Homo sapiens: one gene and its partners. The protein of the gene in region 3 purifies or fractionates together with the protein of the main gene of each other region. This does not show direct contact. Each region holds a gene or a part of one and is shown on either strand. Other genes may lie near its edges.

The links.
Region 1: the proteins of MND1 (region 3) and NSUN4 purify together in Homo sapiens (affinity purification with mass spectrometry; 2 studies listed by BioGRID and IntAct, with this or other methods). This does not show direct contact.
Region 2: the proteins of MND1 (region 3) and MTERF4 purify together in Homo sapiens (affinity purification with mass spectrometry; 2 studies listed by BioGRID and IntAct, with this or other methods). This does not show direct contact.

Annotation. Positions count from the first base shown.
Region 1 is NC_000001.11:46,343,775-46,350,896, forward strand, and holds part of NSUN4 (5-cytosine rRNA methyltransferase NSUN4), read left to right. Parts: exon of another isoform or gene 1-520; intron 521-1,026; coding exon 1,027-1,370; intron 1,371-3,146; coding exon 3,147-3,301; exon of another isoform or gene 3,302-3,359; intron 3,360-7,122. UniProt on the Homo sapiens protein: Mitochondrial RNA cytosine C(5)-methyltransferase that methylates cytosine to 5-methylcytosine (m5C) in various RNAs, such as rRNAs, mRNAs and some long non-coding RNAs (lncRNAs).
Region 2 is NC_000002.12:241,095,014-241,099,352, forward strand, and holds the end of MTERF4 (transcription termination factor 4, mitochondrial), read right to left. Parts: intron 2,415-4,339; coding exon 2,230-2,414; intron 1,426-2,229; coding exon 985-1,425; 3' UTR 558-984; downstream 1-557. UniProt on the Homo sapiens protein: Regulator of mitochondrial ribosome biogenesis and translation. Binds to mitochondrial ribosomal RNAs 16S, 12S and 7S and targets NSUN4 RNA methyltransferase to the mitochondrial large ribosomal subunit (39S).
Region 3 is NC_000004.12:153,354,641-153,361,762, reverse strand, and holds part of MND1 (meiotic nuclear division protein 1 homolog), read right to left. Parts: intron 6,110-7,122; coding exon 6,052-6,109; intron 3,290-6,051; coding exon 3,141-3,289; intron 261-3,140; coding exon of another isoform or gene 156-260; exon of another isoform or gene 1-155. UniProt on the Homo sapiens protein: Required for proper homologous chromosome pairing and efficient cross-over and intragenic recombination during meiosis.

The DNA of each region.
Region 1 (7,122 bases), on a different chromosome or scaffold from region 3:
AGGTCAGGGCAAGAGCAAGAGTCTATGATGGCAAAAGTCGGAACCGGAGCAAGAGTCCCCAACATGGCAAAGGTCAAGGCCAGAGCAAGAGTCCCCAACATAGCAGGAGCCAGAGCAAGAGTCCCAGCGAGGCAAAAGTCACAGAGCAAGAGTCCTCACCATAACAAGAAATGAGGGCCAGAGCAAAAGTTCTGACCAGACCAAAAATCTAGGCCAGAGCAAGGCATAGATAGTAACAAGATTGCCAGCTATAGCAAGCATCCCAGCTGCAGCAACCAGGACCGACTTGTGCACTCCTCATCTGAAGTCTTCATTTCTCTTTTACTCTGCCTCCTTGTTCTTGTCCTCTTGTCCCCTGCTACCCCCATAGCAGTCATCCTAGAAGTCCCTGTTTTGGTTCACACCTCAAGATTCTGTGGGCCCTCCTTATCCAACCTTTCTGGGGTCTGGGAACTCTCCCAGCATGACCCTCAAACCTCTGATTCTAAGCATGGTGGTGCTAGTCACTGTGTGACGCTAGGTAAGTTACCCACATCTCTTCATCAAATTGAAATGTTGTTAATTTTTTTTTGTATCTTACTGAGCTATCAGTTGTAGTGCTCACATAAGCTAGTAGACATGAAAGTGCTTTGAAAATAGAACTGTTCAGAAGAAAAGGGCCTTTTGCTTTTAAGTTCAAAGCTTCCCAGAGCCTCCATAGTTTCTCCTAATCTTCTGCAGGCTCTCCTCAAGAGTCCTCTCCTGAGCTCCCATATTCCTAAGTTCCTCTTTCTCCAAGGTCCCCCTTCTTGATGACCCCCGCACAGTACCGTGAGAGTTACATCTTTATCTGACAACCCTGGGATGGGAAGGCCCACTCTCCACTACTTTTCCCTCTCACACTTCTCTGGCAGGCAGGCAGGATGCAAAAGCAGGAGTGGGCACTAGCTGGATCCAAGTTTGCCCCTAGGCTCTGAGGTGGGGGTCAGGTAGTAGGGGGTAGAGTCAAGACTGGGAAAACCAATAAGCCTGTCCTCTCTCTTTTAGGCTGCCACAGAGCCCAAATTCCCTGCTGTTCGACTGGCTTTGCAGAATTTTGACATGACTTACAGTGTGCAGTTTGGAGATCTTTGGCCATCAATCCGTGTCAGTCTCCTCTCAGAGCAGAAGTATGGTGCACTGGTCAATAACTTTGCTGCCTGGGATCATGTAAGTGCTAAGCTGGAGCAGCTGAGTGCCAAGGATTTTGTGAATGAAGCCATCTCCCACTGGGAACTGCAGTCTGAGGGTGGCCAATCTGCAGCCCCATCCCCTGCCTCCTGGGCCTGCAGTCCGAACCTTCGATGCTTCACTTTTGACAGAGGGGATATCAGTCGCTTCCCTCCTGCCAGGTAGGATCTGGAGCCATGACTGGAGCGGTCCTGAGTGTCTGCTGGAAGTAGACATGTTGAGACCCAGCTTCTACCCTCTGTAATAAGGACCATAATATTGCTAATATTTATGGCATGTTTATACAGACTAGGCATTTTTTTGAGGTGCTGTACATATGTTATCTCTTTTTGTTCTGTCAGCAGCCTTATGAAGTAGGTAATATTATTGCTGTTTTACATTTGGAGAAACTGAGGTACAGAGAAGTTAAGATTCTTACTTGCTTTAGGTCCCTCAGATGGTAAGTGGTGTGACTAATATTTAGACCCAGAACCTGCACTTTGAACCCACTCTGCTCTGTGCCTCTGGTAGAAAACAGCCACCTTTTACATGAGCACTCACTGGGCCCTCTCAAGTTGAAATGTGTTATTCACAGCAGTCTTCTCATTTTGCCCTCACAGCCACCCATCAAAGTGAATAGGAAAAGTAACTTCATGGTAGCAAAGAGGTAGTGGGACTTTCCTAGGAAATAGGGCTGGTCTAGGGGCACAAACTTGGTATTAGACTGGGAAAAAGAAAGGAGAAGTTCAGTTTCTTGATTCAATCCTCATGTATATGAAGTTGAATGAGAAAAGACTGCAGAATCAAATGCTGAATTATGCTTTAACAATTAAGGAGAGCTCAATGTTAGTTGTAGGGTATGGGAATTGATTTTTGAAAGACTGATTTATTTATTAAAAAATATTGGCCGGGTGTGGTGGCTCACGCCTTTAATCCTAGCACTTTGTGAGGCTGAGGCGGGCGGATTGCCTGAGCTCAGGAGTTTGAGACCAGCCTGGGCAACATGATGAAACCCTGTCTCTACTAAAATACAAAAAAATTAGCTGGGTGTGGTGGCGTGCGCCTGTAGTCCCAGCTACTTGGGAGGCTGAGGCAGGAGAATTGCTTGAACCCAGGAGGTGGAGGTTGCAGTGAGCTGAGATCGTGCCACCGTACTCCAGTCTGGGCGACAGAGCGAGACTCTGTCTCAAAAAAAAAAAAAAAAAAAATTATCTACCAAATGCTAGGCATTTAAGTGCCTTGATGAACAAGCCCTCATAGAGCTTCCAGTTTAGTGAGGAAGACAGCTATTTAAAAACAATAATTGGCCAGGCACAGTGGTTCACACCTGTAATCCCAGCACTTTGGGAGGCCGAGGCGGGCAGATCATCTGAGGTTAGGAGTTCAAGACCAGCCTGGCCAAAATGGTGAAACCCCATCTCTACTAAAAAATACAAAAAATTAGCTGGGCATGGTGGCACAAGCCTGTAATCCCAGCTACTTGGGAGGCTGAGGCAGGAGAATCACTTGAATCTGGGAGGCAGAGGTTGCAGTGAGCCAAGATTGCGCCACCGCACTCCAGCCTGGGCAACAGAGCGAGACTGTGTCTCAAAAAAAAAAAAAAAAAAAAAAATTAGCCAGGCATGGTGGCGGGCACCTGTAATCCCAGATATTCAGGAGGCTGAGACGGGAGAATCACTTGAACCTGGGAGGTGGAGGTTGCAGCGAGACGAGATCGTGCCACTGCGCTTCAGCCTGGGTAACAAAAGTGAAACTCCGTCAGTCAATCAATCAGTAAATAAATAATCATTCTGGCTCCCGTATAGATGAATGAATAAGTGAATAAGTAAGTGTGGGTCTGAAAAATGAGTTTTTGGTGATTGGAGCTCAAGCCCCAGAGGGCATAGACTTGGTGGCCTAGACTCCCAGTGGGTGTCCTGACCTGGAATTTAACAATAAAGTGGTCTCCTCTTTTCCAGACCTGGCAGCCTGGGTGTCATGGAGTACTACCTGATGGATGCTGCCTCCTTGCTGCCTGTTCTGGCCCTCGGCCTGCAGCCTGGGGACATCGTGCTTGACCTATGTGCAGCTCCTGGGGGAAAGACACTAGCGTTGCTTCAGACTGGCTGTTGCCGTAAGTCAGGGTGCTGGTGTGTTGGGCAGAGAGAGCTCCCCACCTCACCTAGTCCCAGGTACATTTAATATGGTAGGTTCGGCCAGGCGCAGTGGCTCCCGCCTGTAATCCCAGCACTTTGGGAAGCCGAGGGAGGCGGACCACCTGATGTCAGGAGTTCCAGACCAGCCTGGTCAACATGGTGAAACACCATCTCTACTAAAAATACATAAATTAGCTGGGTGTGGTGGTGCACTCCTGTAATACCAGCTACTCAGGAGGCTGAGGCAGGAGAATTGCTTGAACCCGGGAAGTGGAGGTTACAATGAGCTGAGATCCTGCCACTGCACTCCAGCCTTGGCGACAGAGTGAAACCCTGTCTCACACACACACAAAAAAAGAATATGGTAGGTTCTCTAGTCCCAAAGTCAGAGTGGAGGGTAGTACTTACTTTCTAAGCTTGTGTATTTTTTCATTAGTTCCTCTCTTTCTCTGTCAATTGGTCAAGAAAGATTGCTGAGCAAGTTCTCTGAAGTCAGATTGAAGTAGGGCTCTGATCAGTTGATCACATGATACACACTCCTCTTCATCTGTTTACTTTTCCTCTAAGATTAAGCCCATTTCTTTAGCCTACCAACTAAAATGATAAGATCTGCCTGCAGCCACCATTTATATGCTTTATATGTCACTCTTCTAGGCTTTATGTGCTTTAACCTTACTCTGCTACTCTCTGTTGCCTTTGCTCTTGTTAAATTTTCTCCCTGGAATTCCCTCACCCTTGGCTGTCCAAATCCTTTTGACTTTCTTTTTTTTTTTCTTTCTTTTTTTTTCTCTTTTTTTCGAGATGGAGTCTCACTCTGTCACCCAGGTTGGAGTGCAGTGGCACGACCTCGGCTCACTGCAAGCTCCGCCTCCTGGGTTCACGCCATTCTCCTGCCTCAGCCTCCCTACTAGCTAGGACTACAGGCGCCCACCACCACGCCCAGCTAATTTGTTTTTGTACTTTTAGTAGAGACAGGGTTTCACCCTGTTAGCCAGGATGGTCTCAATCTCCTGACCTTGTGATCTGCCCGCCTAGGCCTCCCAAATTGCTGGGATTACAGGCATGAGCCACCGCGCCCGGCCCCTTGTGTCAAGTACTCACTTCAGCCATCCACTGGCTGATATCCTGCCTGCCCAGTCATCCTTTTGACTTTCAAGCCTCAGCTCAAGTGTGCCACCTCCTGGACGTCTGTCCTTACGACCTCTGCTGGCCGGTTCAGAAATGATGCCTGTCTCCTACGCTCCCACAGCATGGGTATCGCCCTTGCAACATTAGCCTTGCCTTAGGGCTTTACTAGTTATATATCTTCTCCCTCTTAAAGATGATGGATTCTGGCCGGGCACGGTGGCTCACGCCTATAATTCCAGCACTTTGGAAGGCTGAGGCGGGTGGATCACCTGAGGTCAGGAGTTCAAGACAAGCCTGGCTAACATGGTAAAACCCCGTTTCTATTAAAAATACAAAAAATTAGCCGGGCCTGGTGGTGGGCTAATCCCAACTACTTGGGAGGCTGAGGCAGGAAAATCGCTTGAACCTGGGAGATGGAGGTTGCAGTGAGCTGAGATCACGCCATTGCACTTCCGCTTGGGCAACAAGAGCAAAACTCTGTCTCAAAAAAAAAAAAAAAAAAAAAAAAAAAGTGGATTCCTTGGGGATAGGCCCACATCTTATTTGTCTCAGTAAAGTAGCCCAGCGAAGGCCTTGTGCACTGTTTTTTTTTTTTTTTTTTTTTTTTGAGAAGAAGTTTCGCTTTTCTACCCAAGCTGGAGTGCAGTGGCACGATCTTAGCTCAATACAACCTTCGCCTTCTGGTTCCAAGCAATTCTCTTGCCTCAGCCTCCTGAGTAGCTGGGATTACAGGCACCCACCACCACACCCGGATAATTTTTGTATTTTTAGTAGAGATGGGGTTTCACCATGTTGGCCAGGCTGGTCTCGAATTCCTGACCTCGCAATCCACCCACCTCGGCCTCCCAAAGTGCTGAGATTACAGGTGTGAACCACCGCGCCCAGTCTTGTGCACTGTTTTTTTTGGTTTGTTTTTTTGTTTTTTTTTTTTTGAGACGGAGTCTTGTTCTGTCACCCAGGCTGGAGTGCAGTGGCGTGATCTCGGCTCACTGCAAACTCCGCCTCCCGGGTTCATGCCATTCTCCTGCCTCAGCCTCCCAGATAGCTGGGACCACGGGCACCCGCCACCATGCCCGGCTAATTTTTTTGTATTTTTAGTAGAGATAGGGTTTCACCGTGTTAGCCAGGATGGTCTTGATCTCCTGACCTCGTGATCCGCCCACCTTGGCCTCCCAAAGTGCTGGGATTACAGGCGTGAGCCACCGCGCCTGGCGCCTTGTGCACTGTTAAGTACTCACTTCAGCCATCCACTGGCCGATATCCTGCCTTAAAATAGATAGTTTTTTTCCTTTGGCCCCTGACAAAGGGCCGTAATTTACACACCTAACCTGGAGCTCAGCCAGGCTTCTCTTGCCGTGTGCCCAAGCCCTTCTGTTGGACCTAGACCCTTCTTTTCCAGGTCTTGTCAGCCAGCTTGCACAGTTTGAGTCAGCATCCAGCCTTATGATAGGCATTGGTTGATTCAGAGAGATATCACATTCGGTCATAGCCTTCTGGAAGTCCAGAGGGAGAGAAGAAAAGGTGGGGTCATGGGCTTAATGAATCCAATGCAAGAGAGCCCAGCCTGTGTGCTGGACAATTCTTATCTGACTGAATGCTGTGGGAATCCATTAGAAGGGAGATGAGTAAGGGTAGGGTTACTTGGAGGAGGAGGAACTTGAACTAGGAGGAGGAAGAAGGGCAAAGAAGAAGTAATTGAGAGTTGTTCTTCTAAGGCATGCTTAACTATCAGCACCTCACCTTCATCCCAGCTCCTCATCAAGCGACAACTCTTGATCCGAGGAAAACGGGATCACAGAATTTGTATAAGAAGGGAAATTAGTGTTTACTTAGTCTAGCCCTCATATTTTATGGAGGGAGAAATTGAGTTCTGTGGAGATTAAATAAATAATACAAGAATTGGAGGTAGAGCCAGAACTGGAACCCATCTTTCTTTTTCTCAGTTCATATCCTTCTGCAAATTCCTCTAGAGCAGAGAATACAATTTTTACTTCTTTGAGTGCCCTCAAAAATGGAGACATTGGCCGGGGGGCGGTGACTCACGCCTGTAATCCCAGCACAAGCTAGGAGGCTGAGGCAGGTGGAATACTTGAGTCCAGGAGTTCGAGACTAGCCTGGGCAACATAGACCTCATCTTCATTAAAATAAAAAAAAAGGAGACATTTATTTATGGGATTACTAAGCTGGTTCATAGTAGTGACCACTATTAGATAAGGTGGACACTTGCATCTCGCATTCTTTACCATTCCCACCCTACCTTGTTGTTCTTTGACTCAGAGGCCAGGTATCAAGTGTCATTTATCATCAAGCTTGCAATATTTTTCTCATAGTAGCACTAAGAGCAAAGTGAGATATTTCTTGAACTCATGTCTACCAATAAAGAGAAAATGAAAGGTAGATGGTAAATCAGAATTAGGTTTGGTTGCATTTGATAGAAAACCTAACTAATTGGCTTAAAGAGGAAACATTAATTTATCTCTTACATAAGAGAAGCTGAGATATAGGCACTCCAGGTATGGAGGCTCCACAATTATCAGGGACTTAAGCTCCCTTTTTCCTTTTGCAACGTATTTTGTTGCTAGTGTCAGCCTTAGCCTCCCTCCCTTTAAGAGGGAGAAGATATGTAACTAGTAAAGCTCTAAGGCAAGGCCTCATGGTCCAGAATGACTGC
Region 2 (4,339 bases), on a different chromosome or scaffold from region 3:
CATTTCAAATTGTTCTTCGGACTCATTGAGTTCCCTAAGGTGACACGCCCCCCCCCCCCCCCACACCCACCTTGGGGGGTCACGGATTGCTCCCTGTGGCCCTGGCTTCAGCCCACCTGCTCCATGACCCTATGCTCTTCTCCTCTGGTTCTCGAAGCTGTCTGTAACCAGGGCAGGGGAGATAACTGTATGGGACCATTCCCTGGCCTCCACCTGCCCCAGCACTCTCCAGGCCAGCACAGTCTGGCACTACAGACTACAGGGCCGGAGACACCAGGCTTGGAAGTGACCACTGGCCAAGAGCTGACATAAAAGCCAACTTCCCCAAACAGGAAGGGCCTGTTCTTCACAAAGATAAAGAAAACTGCCAGCATTTTGCTGGCCTTAAGAAGCCATGCAAAATTAACCAGTACATCATGAATTAACTTCTTTTACTCTGCTGTGCACTGAATACCATTATGAAGCAATATACTTTTGGATTAAAAATAAGCATTTTTGTGGAAAATCTGCTACATGTTTTCATAAAATAAAGTGCTATGATGTACTAAAACCTCACATTGCCTTCTCGTAATTTTATTTTTATCACAAGAAGGAAATACATAGTGATTCCTGAACCGGAAGAATGAACCCCATCTTCCAACTGTCACGGAATTATCACCAACATATTCAAAAGAGAAAAAAATAAAACCAATTGTTGATATATTGAGTCCCCTTGATGTGAATAGCTCAACATAAGTATCTTATTCAGGATGGGACAGGGCCCTCCCCACAGACACGTGACAACAGATCAAACATGCATTTCCTGTTTCCTGTTTGGTTTGATCTGTCTGCCTCTCAGGTGACTTATAATTTTTTTCATCAAGAGACCAGTTTTAGAATAAAAAATAACTTGAGAAGATTCAAGTAAAGGACCCAAAAGCTTTAAGAGAATGAAAAGCTTCCTTGATATCTCTGGGCCCTTTCGCTCTAGTCCTTCCATCACAGCTATTCCTCCTCGTCGTCGTCCTCATCCTCATCATTGTCCTCCGCCTCGTCGTCGTCCTCATCATCGTCATCCTCATCATTGTCATCCTCATCATTGTCCTCCTCATCATCGTCATCCTCATCCTCATCCAGACTTGCCCTTTTGTCATCAGATGTGCTGCTCTCAGACTCCTCCTCCTCCCGAGCCAGGAGCTTCTTAAAAACTTGAAACTCCTCAACAGAAGTACAGGCTGTCCTGGCCAAAAACTCAGCTTCTGAAACTCTGAGAATGTCCTTGAGCAATGGGTTAGGGATCTGTGTCTGCCCCTTCTTATCAGGGGTTTGGTACCGTCCCAGGCGCTCCAGGTAAATGTGTCTCTGCTTAATCTTGGTTAGTGAATACTGCAAGTACTCACTCTTTACAATGTCTGGATGCTTAATTCCCATCCTGAAGTATGCATACTGGAAGACACAAACACACTTAGGAGTCCCAGATACAGAGTATTGAAACCTATCATTCTATAAACCATAAAAACTTAAGTTGTACAAAAGGATTCAAAAAGAATTGCCTAATTGACAACAGCGAATACCCAGTCTAGGATACTGACATTTGTGTGACAGCCAGCAGTTTCAAAACACTTTCAAATTCATCCTGAGAAACATGGAGCAGGAAATAAAGGGGTGGGAGGGAAAAGGGGCAGGAGGGAGAAGGGGCAGAAGGAAGAGGTGGTATTTTTCTTTAAATGGGGAAGGAAAAGGATGAATATGGAAAGAATAGGCAAAACATTCAGAAAACATCTAGAAATTCGACCTAAGTTGTCATAATTATTACCAAAAAATCGGACAACTGTTAAAATTACATTTTCAAAATCAACATGCAAAATAGATTCTAAGGACAGGAAGGTTTCAGCTATTTTAAAATTAGCTATTTCAGAGTCCCCACTTAGACTCTAAGAATAGGACTGGATCATTCATTATTAATGGCAGAAAAGTTGAAGAATAGGTTTGATCTGTAGTAAAGAAATTAAAGATTTCTCTTTGGCTGATGTATGCAGAGAATCTAGTCTTTCACTTCCTCCACTCAAATATGAGGTGTCCGAGGCTTCTTATCCATATAACTGACCTTCACTACATTTGAAAAACCTGAGAAACTTGCTGTTACTACACTAATCACGGTACCAGTCATTCTCACCTGAAACTACGCTAATCCCATTACCAGTCATTCTCACCTGAAACTACGCTAATCACGCTATCAGTCATTCTCACCTGAAACTTGTATTCCAGTTGACCCAGGTCCTCTCGAAGAACAGAGGGGCAACTGTGCAAAATCTTGGTGACTTGCTGTACCGTGAAAAGGCACTTCTCCTTGAGAAGCCTGACAGTGTCGTTAATGTCCTGCTGGCGCATGGTGAAAATTTCAGGGCAACAGTAAAGCACCCTCTTTAATTTCCCTGCAGAACATTCAAAAAAGGCAAGCATATAATTTCAGGATACTCCAGAAACTCAAGGAGCTAGCTGCACCCAATTTAAGTCCACATTTAAAAACAAACAAGGATCCTCTCCTTCCACAGAGCAAGTGGCAATTTCAGATCTATCTTCCCAGAAGCACCATGGAAATGATACATCTCCCCACTGACTTCCTGACACTCCTCAGACTCACCATCCTTCCCTCCCTATATTCCTGCTTTATTCTGGCCTCCCACCTGAAAGGTGCCAACTTTGTATTTTGGGTCTCCTCTTGCCCTCCTCACTTGGAAAAGAATTTCCCAGGCATTTACTGGAAAGATCAGAGAGTAATATGGGAGAGTAGTTTCCTCCATATTGCTGGTTTGGGTTGATGTTTCCTTCTATAATAAAATAGTCATTGAAGCATTCACAACTAACATTCTCAAGCTGAACTCAATGAAAAGGAGTTCCATCACCATCGTCATCATAACAGTAATAACAATAATAGTAATCATGAGGACACACAACACCAATGCTGACGTCCTGGTTACCAGGGTCACCATATATCTTCTCCAAGCCAGGGCACCTTGAGTGAAAGAGGCCCTATTAAAACCGCACTAACTGGTGTAAACTGGGACTATTCCAGGCCTTCCTAGGGATAGCTGAGCAAAATTCAGTAATGGGAAACTTAAAGTCAACTATTTAAACTGTTAATTAAAATTTTCCTAACATTTGAGTTAGTGATTATCTTAATATGTGAGGAATTTCAGTTTAGGTTTATCTTCATTTCTTAAGGCTGTGCTGAGTTTGCTAATTAATCACCACCACACATAATATATTTAGACTTTTAGATTACACTGTAAGAATCTGTTAAGAAAAATATACAAGGCTACCTTTTTCTTATCTTCTAGAGAAGGAGGCCTGTAGAGATGCTGTGAAATGGTGGATCCTAAACCTTCTACCACTGCCTCAAAAAACATCTTACCAGGAAGAGTCAATAATGCAAAGAAATAATAGTGGAACTCCTCTGGTCAAAGTGGGTAAGGGTCCTTGGAGACCCCCAACTCCTCCAGAAGGCCCTTAAAGAGATTCAAGGAACTTTGAGCATCCTTGAGATGTGAATATTGTTGGGGGCAGGAGTGGGGGATAAATAGAAGGGAAGGCCACTCCACGAGTATCCCAGGAACCTGGCCAGATCTCTCATGTTCCAGAGTAAATCTAAACACTCGACTAGAATCTAAGTCTTTACAAGAGATGTTGGTTTGACATCACATCACAGAGACAGAGCACTAAGACCATTTCATGTTGATTTAAACATCAAATGCTATATGTACACATATTTATCAACATCACATTATCAGCATCAACCCACTGAACACATACCATATGCCCACCACTGCACTAGGTGCTGAAGATCCCACGGTGAACAAGGCAGACAAGAGTCTCTGCCCTGGCACTCAATTTTTTCTTCTAGTCTTAACTCCTCCTCCTTCCCTCTCAAAATGTATTCTGCACAGAAAGCCACTCCTATTCCTCACCTCCAAGCCAAATTATACAGTCCTCTCCAGGAACACTGACATACTCAGAAACCTCCCCTAATCCATCTCACCTTAGGCTGCTCTTTCCCCACCTCTGGCTCCTGTCACACTATATAAAATCTTTTTTTTTTTTTTTGAGACAGCCTTGCTGTCACCCAGGCTGGAGTGCAGTGGCGCCATCTCAGCTCACTGCAACCTCCGCCTCCTGGGTTCAAGCGATTTTCATGCCTCAGCCTCCCAAGTAGCTGGAATTACAGGTGCGTGCCACCAAGCCCAGCTAATTTTTCTATTTTTAGTTGAGTCAGGGTTTCACCATGTTGGCCAGGCTGATCTTGAACCCCTGACCTCAAGTGATCTGCCTGCCTCGGCCTCCCAAAGATCTGGGATTACAG
Region 3 (7,122 bases):
GGGTTCATGCCATTCTCCTGCCCCAGCCTCCCCAGTAGCTGGGACTACAGGCACCCACCACCACGCCCGGCTATTTTTTTTGTATTTTTAGTGGACAGGGTTTCACCGTGTTAGCCAGGATGGTCTTGATCTCCTGACCTCGTGATCTGCCCGCCTCAGCCTCCCAAAGTGCTGGGATTACAGGCGTGAGCCACTGCGCCCAGCCAGAATTTTCTATAATAGGAGACTTTAATTATTTCATGGAAGCAGCAGCCAGGGTCCTAAAGAAGAGGAAATAAAAACATGCAAACTCGGATTCATGATAAAACATCAAAACATAACATCAAAGACTGAAGGAAATCTTAAAAGCAAACAGAAGAGAGATTACTAAGGAAAACAAGACAATCAGAATGATAGCAAAACATCTCATTAGCAACATATGCCACAAGACAATGAAGTAATATTTTCAAAATGCTGAGGAAAAATAACTAAGAATTCTATATTCGGGAAGCAATGATAAATTAGACATTTTCAAACAAAGATTGAGAGTTTACCACTCTTAAACTCTGGCTGAACAAATTACTAAAGGATGTCCTTCAGTACGGATTCCTTCTTGAAGTGTTTTTAAATCCATAAAGTGCACAGGGTTACAGGCCGGTCGCAGTGGCTCACCCACCAGCACTTTGGGAAGCTGAGGTAGGTGGATCACTTGAGTTCAGGAGTTCAAGACCAGCCTGGGCAACATGGCAATACCCTGTCTCTACAAAAAAGTGCAAAAATTAGCAGAGTTTGGTGGTGTGCCTATAATCCCAGCTACTCAGGAGGCTGAGGCGGGAGGATGGCTTGGGCCTGGGAGGTCGAGGCTGCAGTGAGCCATGTTTGCGACACTACACTCCAGACTGGGTGACAAAGCAAGACCCTGGGTACTTTAGTAGTTATATATACATGTGTATATATATGTGTATATATGTATATATGTGTATATATGAATATATGTGTATATATGTGTATATGTATATGTGTGTATATATGTGTATATACATATACACACAAAGCAAGACCCTGTCTCACACACACACAAAAATATTTATAGTATTTATTTATTTATTTATTTATATAAAAATATTTATATATTTTTGTGTATATATGTGTGTATTTTTATGTGTATATATATATACACACACACACACACACACACATACAGAAAAGAAGTAAATTATACTAAAATACAGTTACTTTGGACATGTATGTACAAAAAATTGAATTTAGACACACACTTTACACCTTTCCCAAAAATTAACTCAAAATGGATAATAAATCTAAGTGTAAAATGCAAAACTACAAAACTCCTAGAAGGTAACATAGGAGAAAATCTACATGCCCCTGGATTTGGCCACGACTATTTAGTTACAACACCAAAAGAATGTCCCAGGAAAGAAAAAAATTGACCAGTTGGACTTCATTAAAATTGAAAACTGCTCTGTGAAAGATGCTGTTGAGATAATGAAAAGATAAGTCACAGACTCAGAGGAAATCTTTGAAAAACACATATTTGATAAAGAACTGGTGTCCAAAATATACAAAGAACTCTTAAAACTCAATAACGAGAAAACAAAAACCCAATTGAAAAATGGGCAAAAGATCTAAACACCTCCTTTTACATAGATGACAAATAAGCATAAAAAAAGATGTTCCAGGGCTGGGTGTGGTGGCTCATGCCTGTAATCCCAGCACTTTGGGAGGCCAAGGTGGGTGGATCACCTGAGGTCAGGAGTTCAAGACCAGCTTGGCCATCATGGTGAAACCCCGTCTCTACTAAAAATACAAAATTAGTTGGGTGTGGTGGTGTGCACCTGTAACCCCAGCTACTTGGAAGGCTGAGGCAGGAGAATCACTTGAACCAGGGAGGCAGAAGTTACAGTGAGCTGAGATCGCACCATTGCACTCCAGCCTGGTCAAAAAAAGTGAAACTCCGTCTCACAAAAAAAAAAAAAAAAAAAAAAAGATCTTCCAAATCATATGTCATTAGAGAATGGCAATTTAAAACAACAATGAGATACCACTACACATCTATTAGAATGGCTAAAATACAAGACACTGACAACACCAAATCCTGGCAGTGATGTGAACCAATAGTAACTCTTACCCACTGTAGTTGGGAATGCAAAAACAGATACTTTGGCAGTTTCCTAGAAAGTAAACATAAACTTACCATACAATCCAGCAATCACGCTCCTTGGTACTAAATGTGTTGAAAATTTATGTGTACACAAAACCTACACATGAATGCTTATGGCAGCTTTATTTGTAACTGCCCAAACTTGGATGTGACCCAGATGTTCCTCAATAGCTCAATGGATAAACAAACTGTGGTATATTCATATAACGAAATATTATTCAGCAATAAAAAGAAATGAGCCATCAAGCCATTAATAGACATGGAGAAACCTCAAATGCATTTTGTTAAGGGAAGGAAGCCAATCTGAAAAGGTTACATACTGTATGATTCCAACTATATGGAAAAGGTAAAACTATAGAGACAGTAAAAAGATCAGTGGTTGCTACGGTTTCGGGAGAAGAGAGGGATGAACAAGTAGGAAACAGCGGATTTTTAGGGCAGTGAAACTATTCTGTACAATACTATAATTGTGGATACACGTCATCATGCATTTGTCAAAACTCACATAATGTATAACACCAAGACTGAACCCTAATGTAAGCTACGGAATTTAGTTAGTAATAAATCAATATTGACTCAATTGTGACAAACATATTACACTAGTATAGGATGTCAATAACAGGGAAAATTGTGTGCGTGGTGAGGGAGAAAGGGCACGTTTGGGAACTCTCTGTACTTTTCCATCAATATTTTTCTGTAAGTCTAAAACTGCTTCCAAAAAACCATCTATTGATAAAGAGAAAATTAAAAAACAATAAAAACAGCAACAACAAAAACAATATCTTGACATATGGGAAGATGAAAATTAAAACGTTCTAAGTTCCTCATATTGTTTAGGAGAAACAGATGTTAATTATCTTTAGACTTTCAGTCAAATAATGCATATCAAAAATTCAAAAGAAACTGCTAAACAAAAAGAGGATGAAGTAAAACAACTCTCCGTTATAAAGCAACTCTATTCTTTTTAACTGTGGCAGCTTACCTGAGATTCCAGAACCTCCAACTTATGTTTCCTTGCATGAAGAGCTTTACTTGGAAAAGCCCAATAATAATTAGAAGTTCCGATCCTCTCACAGTCAACCATACCATCATCAACTAAGCTTTGAAGGACTTCTTTTACTGACATAGCAGCTAAGAGACAATTTTTAAAGACTCTATGTTAGAAAAACACCATAAATAAAATTAAAGGACAAATAACTGGGGAAACACTTGCAAAACATATCACAAATCAAGAGTTAAAAAGTTAATAAGCTCTTAAAAATAACAACATGCACAACAATGAAACTGCCTAAGGAAACATTTCTTAGAATGTATCCCCATCCTTAAGCAAAGCATGACTTATACAGGAGCCTAGGGGAAAACAAGTAATATACAGGATTAAGAACAGGACCTGAGTTCTAATCCTAACTCTTAGCAGTAACACTGGATGACTCTAGGGCAAATTGTTCTTTATGCCTAATTTAAAAAATCTATTAGATATGATCATTTCCATACTTACTTTGGTGCATAGCAGTAATGTCAATAAAATGTTACTTGTGAGAAGCCTTTGAAAAAGCAAAACAAAACTACAGAAATGCAAGTTTTTCTCTCCCAATAGATTATCTAGTAATAGAAGATGCTAGCATCAGTGCTTAGTAAATAATTTTAATGGTGTTAACACTCATAGTCTGTTGCTATATGGTATCTTTTCCTTTTCTAAATAATGTTTCTTTTTTAAAAAAGATGTTGGGTAATTTGGCCATCATCTTATACTGCAGAAAAAAATTGTCAATAACTGGGAGGGAAAATAGGTAAGAAGAAAAGGAATTTAGTTAATACAATAAATTTTTCCATCTTGTAGACTGGATTGAATTTTGTTTTTTGTTTTTGATCCTTCAAGATACAGTTGAGATTCCATTACCTACAATTTGTCTGGGGACATTAGGACACTGGTGTAATTAATATTGTATAGTTGACCCTTGAACAGTACAGGTTTGAACTGCATGGGTCCAGTTATATACATGGATTTTCTGCCACCTGAGACAGCAACACCACTTCCTCCTCCTCCTCAGCCTACTCAATGTAAGATGACAAGGATGAAGAACTTTATGATGATCCACTGCCACTTAATGAATAGTAAATACATGGTATGGCTTCCTGTCAACAGCAGGCTATCAGTAGTTAAGTTTTGGGGGAGTCAAAAATTACATGCAGATTTCCAATTGTGTGGGGGATTGGTATCCCAATCTTGAACAACATAGGTGTTGTTCCAGGGTCAACTGTGTATTTAAACTTAAGAAATTTGCATATCTTTAAGAAGTAGCAGAACCAATTGTTCACTGATGACTGTAAAGAGAATAATTGTGTGGTGTACATAAAAGTGTGAGGGACTCTCAGTGGTTGTCTGGTTTCACTTGTATGTATACTCATAATAAAAGAGGTTTTTTCATTTTGAAACAACACAACAAAAGACACACAAAAAATACATCAATGTGCATCTATAAAATATGCATGGTGGCTCATGCCTGTAATCCCAGCACTTTGGGAGGCCAAGGCAGGTAGATCACTTGAGGTCAGCGGTTTGACAACAGCCTGGCCAACATGGCAAATCCCCATCTCTACTAAAAATACAAAAATTAGGTGGGCATGGTGGCAGGAGCTTGTAATCCCAGCTACTCATGAGGCTGAGGCAGGAGAATCGCTTGAACCCGGGAGACAGAGGTTGCAGTGTGCCAGGACTGCACCACTGGGCTCCAGCCTGGACCACTGGGCTCCAGCCTGGGTGACAGAGTAGACTCTGTCTCAAATAAATAAATAAACAAATAAATAAATAAATAAAATAAAATATGCATGGCCAATATATGAGAAAAATGTTCAACCCCATTAATAACTGAAGAAATCGAAAATAAAGCAATTAGACATGACTTGACTACCAAATTAAAAACACTAAAAAATACAATAAAGAATTCAAGGATACTTGAATGGGTACTCTCAGTATGGGTGGAGAAACGTGGCAATCTGTATCTAAAACTTCAGATTTATACATATCTTTTTTTTTTTTTTTTTTTTTTTTGAGACTGAGTTTCACTCTGTCACCCAGGCTGGAGTGCAGTGGCGCGATCTCGGCTCACTGCAAGCTCTGCCTCCTGGGTTCACGCCATTCTCCTGCCTCAGCCTCCTGAGTAGCTGGGACTATAGACGCCTGCCACCACGCCCGGCTAAGATTTTTTTGTATTTTTAGTAGAGACGGGGTTTTAGTAGGCAGGATGGTCTTGATCTCCTGACCTCATGATCCAACTGCCTTGGCCTCCCAAAGTGCTGGGATTATAGGCGTGAGCCACCACGCCCAGCCCAATTTATACATATCTTTCCTGGGGAAATTCCACCTTATAAATACAGCCAAACAAAAAATAATAGATATGTAGAAGGATGCCTGTCAACACATTGTTTTCGACAGCAAAAGAATTGGAAACCAGTCTAATAACTGGATTTTTATTTTAAAGACAGGATTTTGCTATGTTGCCTAGCTGGGCTGAAGTGATCCTCCCGCTTCAGCCTCCAGAGTGGCTGGGACTACAAGTGTGTGTGCGCTACCAGCCAGCTTATCAACTAGATTTTTAAAAGTATTTTTTTATTGCAATGGGATACTATACAATCATTTATGTTATAAAAGGATATTTAATGACAGGGATATATATTCAAAATGTAATATACAGGATGTATTATACAGAAAAATAAAGGACAACATGACAGTGGTTATCTTTGGATGGTGATGATTTCTTTGTCTCTAGAAATTTAGGTTTTCCATAAAGTGAAAGACTGTTGCAGAAAAGATGACTTAATGAATATTAAGATATTTCCCAAAACATCCCAGTATATTTCCCAAAACATTCCAGTATAACTTTGGTACTTACTAATGCCTTTCTCTTTGGGAGCAATCTTCTCCAAGTCTTTTAATTGAAATACATCTTTCTGTTTAAAGGGTTTTAAAGAAAATGAAAAGCACGTGTTTATTTTCTACTATGTATATTTTCATTTTTAAAAATTTTTATTATGGGTACATAATAGTTGTATACATTTACAGGGTATGTGTGATATTTTGATATAGGTATACAATGTGTTATGATGAAATTGTGGTAATTAGGGTATCCATCTCTTCAAACACTTATCATTTCTTTGTGTTAGGAACATTCCAATTTCACTCTTAGTATTTTTAAATATACAATATATTATTAACTATAGTCACCCTATCGTGTTCTACTACATATTTATATATACATCATAATTTTATGTTCATGAAAAATTGTATTTAAAAAATTGGCCTGGAAATGAACAGTATAATAGAATCAAGCATTTTAGAGCTTATTAGAAACTCTTTGATTATCTCATTCCATACCTTCAATAGAACTTAAGAGATTTTTGCATACATTTACAATTTGCATATATATACAATTTTTTTTTTGAGACATGGTTTCACTCTATGGCCCAGATGGGAGTACAGTGGCACGATCATGGCTCACTGCAGCCTTGACCTCCAGGGCTCAAACAATCATCCCACTTCAGCCTCCTGAGTAGCTGGGACTACAGACATGCACCACCATGCCTGGCTAATTTTTAAAAATTTTTTTAGAGAGAGGGTCTCACCATTTTGCCCAGGCTGGTCTTGAACTTCTGGACTCAAGCAATCCTCCCGTCTCAGCCTCCCAAAGTGCTAGGATTACAGAGATGAGCCACCATGCTTGGCCAGCAGCATACAATTATTTAAAGTTCTTGGAGATCAGAACATAAAGAACAATCTTCCCACTTAAGTATAAAAACTAGTTATAGGCCAGTCATGGTGTCTCCTGTCTATAATCCCACCACTTTGGGAGGACTGCTTGAGCTCAAGAGCTGGAGACTGGCCTGGGTAACACAGTGAGACCACTCTTGCACCACATCTCCACAAAATCAAAAAAATTAGCTGGGTGTGGTAGTGCGTGCCTGTA